Linked DNA regions of Homo sapiens. The protein of the gene in region 2 purifies or fractionates together with the protein of the main gene of each other region. This does not show direct contact. Each region holds a gene or a part of one and is shown on either strand. Other genes may lie near its edges.

Region 1 (3,820 bases), on a different chromosome or scaffold from region 2:
GTCTTCATACTATCCTTGAGCCAGTGTTCAAGAGCTTAAAATGTGACATGTGTTCTAATGTTTTACCTTCTCCCTCAAACACATACTTATGTACTTAACTATTGCACTTGGACATTTCCCTGGGCTCTCAGTTTAACATATCTGAACAAATCATTATCACTTCCTCTTGAAGACTACAGTTTTTTGTATCTCAGGTAATAGACCCCTGGCACCCTTTGTCTGCCATGCTGGAAACTGCCTCTGTTTTCCATTATGTCAAGTCAGTTCTTTGGTGCCACTGACTTTTCCTCTTAAATGTTCCTTAAATTTATTCTTTTCTTCTTCATTCCTACCATTGCTGCTCTTGTTTTAGGTTTTTATCATATTTCATTTTTTAATAATCTCAAACTGATTTTCTTTCCTCTGAGCTAAACTCCTACTTAAATTTATCATACATATGTTTATTTAAAATGCACTTCTGACCGTCTCACTTTTCTACTTAAAATACATCAGTGGTTTTCCATCATGTGTAGGATAAATTCCTTTCTCTTTGGCATGGCATACAAGGCTTTCATATCACATATTAGGCATTTCATTAATTATTGTTGTATTGAACTCAAACATTCAGTGTGGATAGAGTCCCCAAGTAGGTTGCACTGCCACTCATATATCACTTAATGGTGGAGATTCCTTCTGAGAAATGTGTCATTAGACAGTTTCGTCACTGCGCAAACGTCATAGAGTGTACTTACACAAACCTAAATGGTATAGCCTACTATACACCTAGGATATATGGTATAGCCTATAGCTCCTACTCAACAAATCTGAGCAACATCACTGTACTGAATACTATAGGCAGTTGTAACACAATGGTAAGTATCTGCATTTCTAAACATAGAAAAGGTACAGTAAGAAAACTATAAAAGAGAAAAAATGGTACACTTGTATAAGGCACTTGCCGTGGATGGAGGTTACAGAACTGGAAGTTGCTCTTGGGTGAGTTGGTTAGTGGGTGGTGAGTGAATGTGAAGGCCTAGAATGTTATCGTACACTACTGTAGGCTTTATAAAACTGTACTCTTAGGCTACGCTGTTTGTTTAAATAATTTTTTCTTCAGTAATAAATTAGCTTACTATAACTTTTTTACTTTATAACCTTTTAATTTTTTGAAACTTTTTGACTCTCTTATAATATTTAGCTTAAAACACACACATTCTACAGCAGTACAGAAGTATTTTTTTATATCCTTTAAGATTTTTTTCTGTTTTTAAAATTTTTAATTTTTTTTTAACCTTTAAAACTTCTGTTAAAAACTAAGACAAAGACACAAACACACACATTAGCATGGGCCTATACAGGGTGAAAATCATCCATATCACGGTCTTCTCCTCCTACATGTTGTCCCACTGGAAAGTCTTCAGGGGCAATAACATGGAGCTGTCATCTAGGAAAACTGCACCTTCTTCTGGAATACCTCCTGAAGGACTTGCCTGAGGCTGTTTTACAGTTAATTTTTTTTTTAATAAGTAGAAGGAGTATACTCTGATATAATAGTAAGATACATAGTATAGTAAATACATAAACCAATTACATAGTCATTTATCATTATCAAGTATTACGTACTATACATAATTGAATGTGCTATAGTTTTATACACTGGCAGTGCAGTAGGTTTTTTTTTATACCAGCATTATCTCAAACACATGAATAATGTGTTGCACTGTGATGCTGTGATAGCTATAGTGTCAGTAGCTGACAGGAATTTTTCAGCTCCCTTGTAATCTCAGGGAACCACTGTCATATATGTAGTCTGTTGCCAACCAAACATTTGTTATGTGGCTCATGACTGTATATCCCTGCCAGCACGAGAGGTTCTACCTTAACAGGTAGCTTATGAAGATGCCAAGTGGAAGGATGATTTTCCTGCTCCTTTTGAGAAAAAAAAAAGTTTAAAAACATTCCTTTGGAGCATCATCTTTTGAAGCAAAAGCCATACTGTAGTAATCTTTTAGCTCTTCATATTTCACAAGGAGGTCGGGGAGAACAAATATGTACTTTCAAGAAGACTTTTAAAAAATGTCTCTATCAATTATCCCTTTACTTAAAATTTCTTATATTACTCATCCTATAATTTATTAATATTAAACATTTACTATTTTTTAAAAAATTAAATGTTTATAGAATATGTGCCATGTCTGAGGCAGGAGAATCTCTTGAACCTGGGGGGCGGATATTGCAGTGAGCCGAGATCACGCCATAGCACTCCAGCCTGAGCAACAAGAGCGAAATTCCGTCTTGGGGGATTTAAAAAAAAAAAGAATATGTGCCATGTAAGTTGGTATGCTTAGTGCCCTGGAAAATGAACAAGACAAGATTTCCTGTCTTTAAAGAGATCACAGCAAAGTGGATGGTGCAGAAAGATAAACATTGCAGTAGAGTACGATAAAGGCCACAATAGAGTTATGCCATTCTATTGTGGGAACACTAGAGGCAGGCTATCTTCGAGTTAACTGGAAGATCAAGTCTCAAATCTAGGGAACATGTCCCTAGCTTGTTCAGGCTGCTTTATGGTTGGGCCCCATTTGTCTTCCAGTCTACCCTGTAGTCCAGTCATACTGAACGCCTCACTTTCTCCTGAATGTGGTGTGACACTTCATGACTTTTGTCTGTCTCAGGTGCTTATTTCTCTTTATTTTGCTTAGCATGTTGTTTCTGCTCTTCTTTTAAATCCCAGCTCAATTAGTGCTTCCTGTCCTGCCTAACCCAGAAAGTTAGTTGTTCCCTTTCATGTGCCCACAGTACTCTGCTCATATCCTAATATAAGGTTTATCGCAGTGCATTATCTATTTACATCTCTCTCTCTCTCTTTCTCTCTCTCCCCCTTGATACTCACAGCTCTTCAAAGACAAAGATGGTGACTTATGTGTCCTTGTACTATGATACTTAGCTGGCATATTAGTTAAAGCAAAAATACCAAATATCATGAGTCTTAATTAACTTTACTATTATATGTTATCATATACACTCTTGGTTTATACGCTAGTACACTTTTTCATTTTCTTAATACTTATACCTGCTAGGGATCCTTCACATTTGTTTAATACAGTCCATTTAAATCACAGGTCCTATAGCACCTTCTGTATGCTAGGTATCGTGTTAGGTACTAGGAATGTAAAAATGAGTAAGGTTCATCCTTGCTGACAAGGGGCTCACAATGGAGGAGAAAAGACAGATAAACAGATACCTGCCACAATTTCTACTCAGTACAAAGTGTGATAGATGCTATGATACTAGGAAGCCCAGGGTGCTTTGGGTTAGCATATGCATGACGGTCATACATAATAGTATAACTTGCCTAGTTGCTTGGAGTCAGGGAAAGCATCCTAGAGGAACTGCACTTTGAGTTGAATCTTGAGAAAGGAAAGAAGCAGAAAGGGAGCAGCTTGGAAGGATGTGAGAGACCAGGATGCTCTGGGGAAACTGCAGCTTGTTTATTCTGACAGGACTAAGAATAGGGCTTGAAACAGAAAGCAGGGAGAGTCTAGACTGGATCTGTTAGACAGGGATTACATTGTATCTGATCGGATCTATCATACTGAAGAGTTTATACTGTTAAACTGAAGATAGTGGAGAGCCACTGAATAATTTTCAACAAGCTTCAATCAAATTTATGTTTGTAATGTTTTGTAGCTTCTGTGCTTCCTTCCCTCCTCCTTTTTCATATATTGTCATATTCTATCTGATTATTTCCCTTGTTTGTAAGTGATGCTTTGGAGTTTTCTTTGTCTGCTCAGTTGGAGTGTTCTTAAACACTCAATGTCAGGTATATAACCACTTACCT
Region 2 (3,820 bases):
GTCTCTGCTCTTGCCCTTCACGTCCCCAGGCATGTCCTCTCCTCTCCTCGGCGTCGCAGTCCCTGTCTCTCCCACCTTCCCCTGCTCTCTTCCTCCTGAGCTCCCAACGTGATTCCTGCTTGTGCTGCTCAGGGGACACTAAGCTTTCTATAGGGAGTGATGTCAACCCAGCTGAAAGCCTCTAGAGAACAAGGAGCTCATCTCAGGCATCCTAGCTACCCCATCCTGGCCCGGGACACAGAGCAGGGCCAGGTATGCACTAGGGCCATCCTCCAAGTCTGTCCAACAGCAGGCCACTGCCTACACAAATGTCATAGGCAGGCAGTGCTCAGAAGACAGGCGTGTGGTGCACAGACAGCATGGCTTGGGAAACAGGGTGGCGCAGCCCCTGTCTTCCTCAGTGACCCTCAGGTGTCCTCTCCCTGGTCTTAGCTACTAAGATCTGATGAGATGCAAGGTCCACTCTAGATCTAAGATTCCATGATTCATGTGTTCATTCACTGAATACAGCCTGTGTGCTAGGCACTGTGCAGCTGGAACTCAGAACAGAGGGTCAGGAGAAAAGGCTATAGTGGAGGCCGAATCTAGAAATATGAGTTGGGACTGGGTGACACATCTTTGTGTGTTTGTGTGTGTGGGTCGGGTATGTGTGTTTGGTCAGACCAAAAAGTACAGAGTCAAGAGAAAACGTGATTGCCCCTGACAGACACAGAGATGCAGAGTAAGAACAAAACAAAGATTTCTACAAAGTGTTCCAGAAGCTTGGAGAAAACCACCATTATTTCCAGCCAGAGCGGTGGCTGGCAGGACGCTGACTGAAAAAGTGGCGAGGCTGGGTGCAGAAGCCTGGCTAAGGTTTGCTTGGGGCCTGCGTGGGGTCATGATTATTCTAAACAGCAAACTGTGGCTGTGTTCAGGGATCAAAGACCAACATTTGGTGGGGTTGGGGTAGGGCATCTGGAAAACAGGGATGGGGGCACAGTGGCGTCTGGAGAGGGCATGGCGCCTGACAGCAGGGGCCCCGCATGGCAGGTTCCGAGGCTCCGAGCTCTCTAAGGCTCCACCCTTACCCTGCGACAGGCGGTCATTGCTCTCGCTGGGTCCAAGCAGCAGGTCCTGGCTGGGTAGACTCTCCGAGTGATTCAGGCAGGACAGCTCCAGGCTGTCTGTGTTCTCCCTTGTAAGGAATGAGGTCCCAGGGGCCAGAGGGAGGGTCATGGGGCGGGGACTGGTAGCAGGGCAGGGTCTGCAGAGACAGGGAAGATGGTGCTGGGAGGAAAGTCACCAGGTGAGAGGCGCAAGGCTGCTCCCCAACCCCACTCTATGTCCCTTAGCGACAGAAGTCAGGCTTCTCACCCTGGGCTCAGGCATTCTTGGATGTCAGACACCCAGGCCTTCACATGCTGGGCATCCACTGTCTCCATGATATACTCGGATGGACCTTCCACCTACAGAGATGAGACGACGCCTCAGCTGGGGCAGGGGCAGGGAGGAGGCTTAATCCATGCCTAATGAGAACAATGTATGCAGGCTGTCTACAAACAAGATGCATTCGAATTCTCTCTGGAGGCCGGGTACAGAGGCTCACACCTGTAATCCCAGCACCTCTGGAGGATCACTTGAGCCCAGGAGTTGGACCAGTCTGGGCAACATAGTGAGAACCTGTCTCTAAAAAAATTGAAAAATAAAATAAGGCGAGGCCGGGTACGATGGCTCACACCTGTAATCCCAGCACTTTGAGAGGCCAAGGAGGGTGGATCACAAGGTCAAGAGTTCGAGACCAACATGACCAATGTGGTGAAACCCTGTCTCTACTAAAAACAAAAATTAGCCAGGCGTGGTGGCAGGCGCCTGTAGTCCCAGCTACTCGAGAGGCTGAGACAGGAGAATCGCTTGAACCCGGGAGGCGGAGGTTGCAGTGAGCCAAGATCATGCCACTTCAACTCCAGCCTGGGAGACAGAGTAAAATGCCGTCTCAAAAATATAAAAAATAAAAATAAAATAAAATAAAATAGGCCAGGCGCAGTGGCTCACGCCTATAATCCCAGCACTTTGGGAGGCTGAGGCGGGCAAATCACGAGGTCAGGAGATCGAGACCATCCTAGCTAACTTGGTGAAACCCCGTCTCTACTAAAAATACAAAAAAATTATCCGGGCGTGGTGGCGGACGCCAGTAGTCCCAGCTACTCGGGAGGCTGAGGCAGGAAAATGGCATGAACCCGGGAGGTGGAGCTTGCAGTGAGTCGAGATCGCGCCACTGCACTCCAGCCTGGGCGACAGAGCGAGACTCTGTCTCAAAAAAAATAAATAAATAATAAAATAAAATAAGGCCAGGCACAGTGGCTCACGCCTGTGATCCCAACACTTTGGGAGGCCAAGTGGGGTGGATCACTTGAGGCCAGTTTGAGACCAGCCTGCCGAACATGGCAAAACCCATTTCTGCTAAACATACAAAAAATTAGCTGGGCATAGTGGTGCATGCCTGTAATCCCAACTACTCAGGAGGCTGAGGCACAAGAATCGCTTGAACCTGGGAGGCAGAGGTTGCAGTGAGCCAAGATCGCGCCGCTGCACTCCAGCCTGTGCGGCAGAGCAAGGCTCTATCTCAAATGTAAGTAAGTAACAAAATTAGCCAGGCATGGTGTCACATGCCTGTAGTCCCAGCTCCTTAGAGGGCTGAGGCAGGACGATCACTTGAGCCCAGGAGTTCGAGGCTACACGAGGCTACAGTGAGCTATGATCAGGTTGCTGCACTCCTGACTTAGAGGGAGACCCTGTCTCTCTAAAACAACCACAACAACAAAAACTCCACAGTTCTCTTTCAAGTGGAGGCATTGTTTTTGAGAGTAAGAACATTTCCCTGTCTTCCGCTATCCCAGAAAAGCTGCAGCCCCAGGGACACACTCTCAAGGCACTGGACACATATATATACCTCCTTTCGGCGACGCCACTTGCTTAAATGCGCTGAGGGCTTTCTCCTTAACACAAGCACTGCCGGCGGCTGGGAAGTTGAATTCCTACCTTAACCACAAACGTGTTCTCCCGGTCAGGCATCTCCAGGGCTGTGGTTGTCCGGACGTCTGTGATAGAAGAGCAGGGGATGCTGAGTCGGGGCCGAGAGGCCTAAGTCAGGAGAAAGAAACAGATCTGGGTGTTTGGTTTCCAAAGACCACTCTTCCCCTCCCTCCAGACATTCATCTTTCCTTCTACATCCTCGGGAAGTTAGACAAAAGGCAGTCACACTGCTTTCTCAGTCCTGCCCGCAGCTGCTAACACAGAGCCAAGAGCCAGCTTTACCAACAAAAAGTGAGCGACACCAGGGCCATGGGCTGGTAAACCCCAGAGCTTATCTGCAGGGCTGTGACCACTCTGAGCACTCTCTCACTTGCTCTCAGTCACCCACCCTCCAAGGGGCCTCACCTTGGGTGGTACAAAGAACTCCAGGCGACTTCCTCCTCCTCCTTCTCCTTCACTTCGAAGCAGCAGGCGACACTTCTGCCACTGAGGCTGCCCTCCTCCCCCTGAAGGAGGCCCAGCCACCCCTCCTCCCCGGCCCACTCCGGCTGGGTCAGGGGCTGCCTCCTCAGCCCCCATGAAACTCAGCAGCTCTTCCCTCTGCACCATCCCTGCTCCATCCTTCAAGGCGCCCCCTCCCCGACTGAGTCTCAGCCTCTCAAAACGGTGAGTCCATCTTTCCCCAGGGGACGTTCCATCACTGACCAGTCCCCTACCAACGGTCCCAGCCCCGCCAGAGGAGTTGGAGTTGCTGTTTCCACCTAAGACTGGGGGGCCTGACGAGGTCTCCAGGGGCCCAGCGGAG

What was found.
Region 1: the proteins of SH2B1 (region 2) and FRS2 purify together in Homo sapiens (co-immunoprecipitation; one study listed by IntAct). This does not show direct contact.

Annotation. Positions count from the first base shown.
Region 1 is NC_000012.12:69,564,332-69,568,151, forward strand, and holds part of FRS2 (fibroblast growth factor receptor substrate 2), read left to right. Parts: exon of another isoform or gene 1-2,309; intron 2,310-3,820. UniProt on the Homo sapiens protein: Adapter protein that links activated FGR and NGF receptors to downstream signaling pathways.
Region 2 is NC_000016.10:28,866,634-28,870,453, reverse strand, and holds part of SH2B1 (SH2B adapter protein 1), read right to left. Parts: coding exon 3,421-3,820; intron 3,124-3,420; coding exon 3,022-3,123; intron 1,449-3,021; coding exon 1,357-1,448; intron 1,247-1,356; coding exon 1,071-1,246; intron 1-1,070. UniProt on the Homo sapiens protein: Adapter protein for several members of the tyrosine kinase receptor family.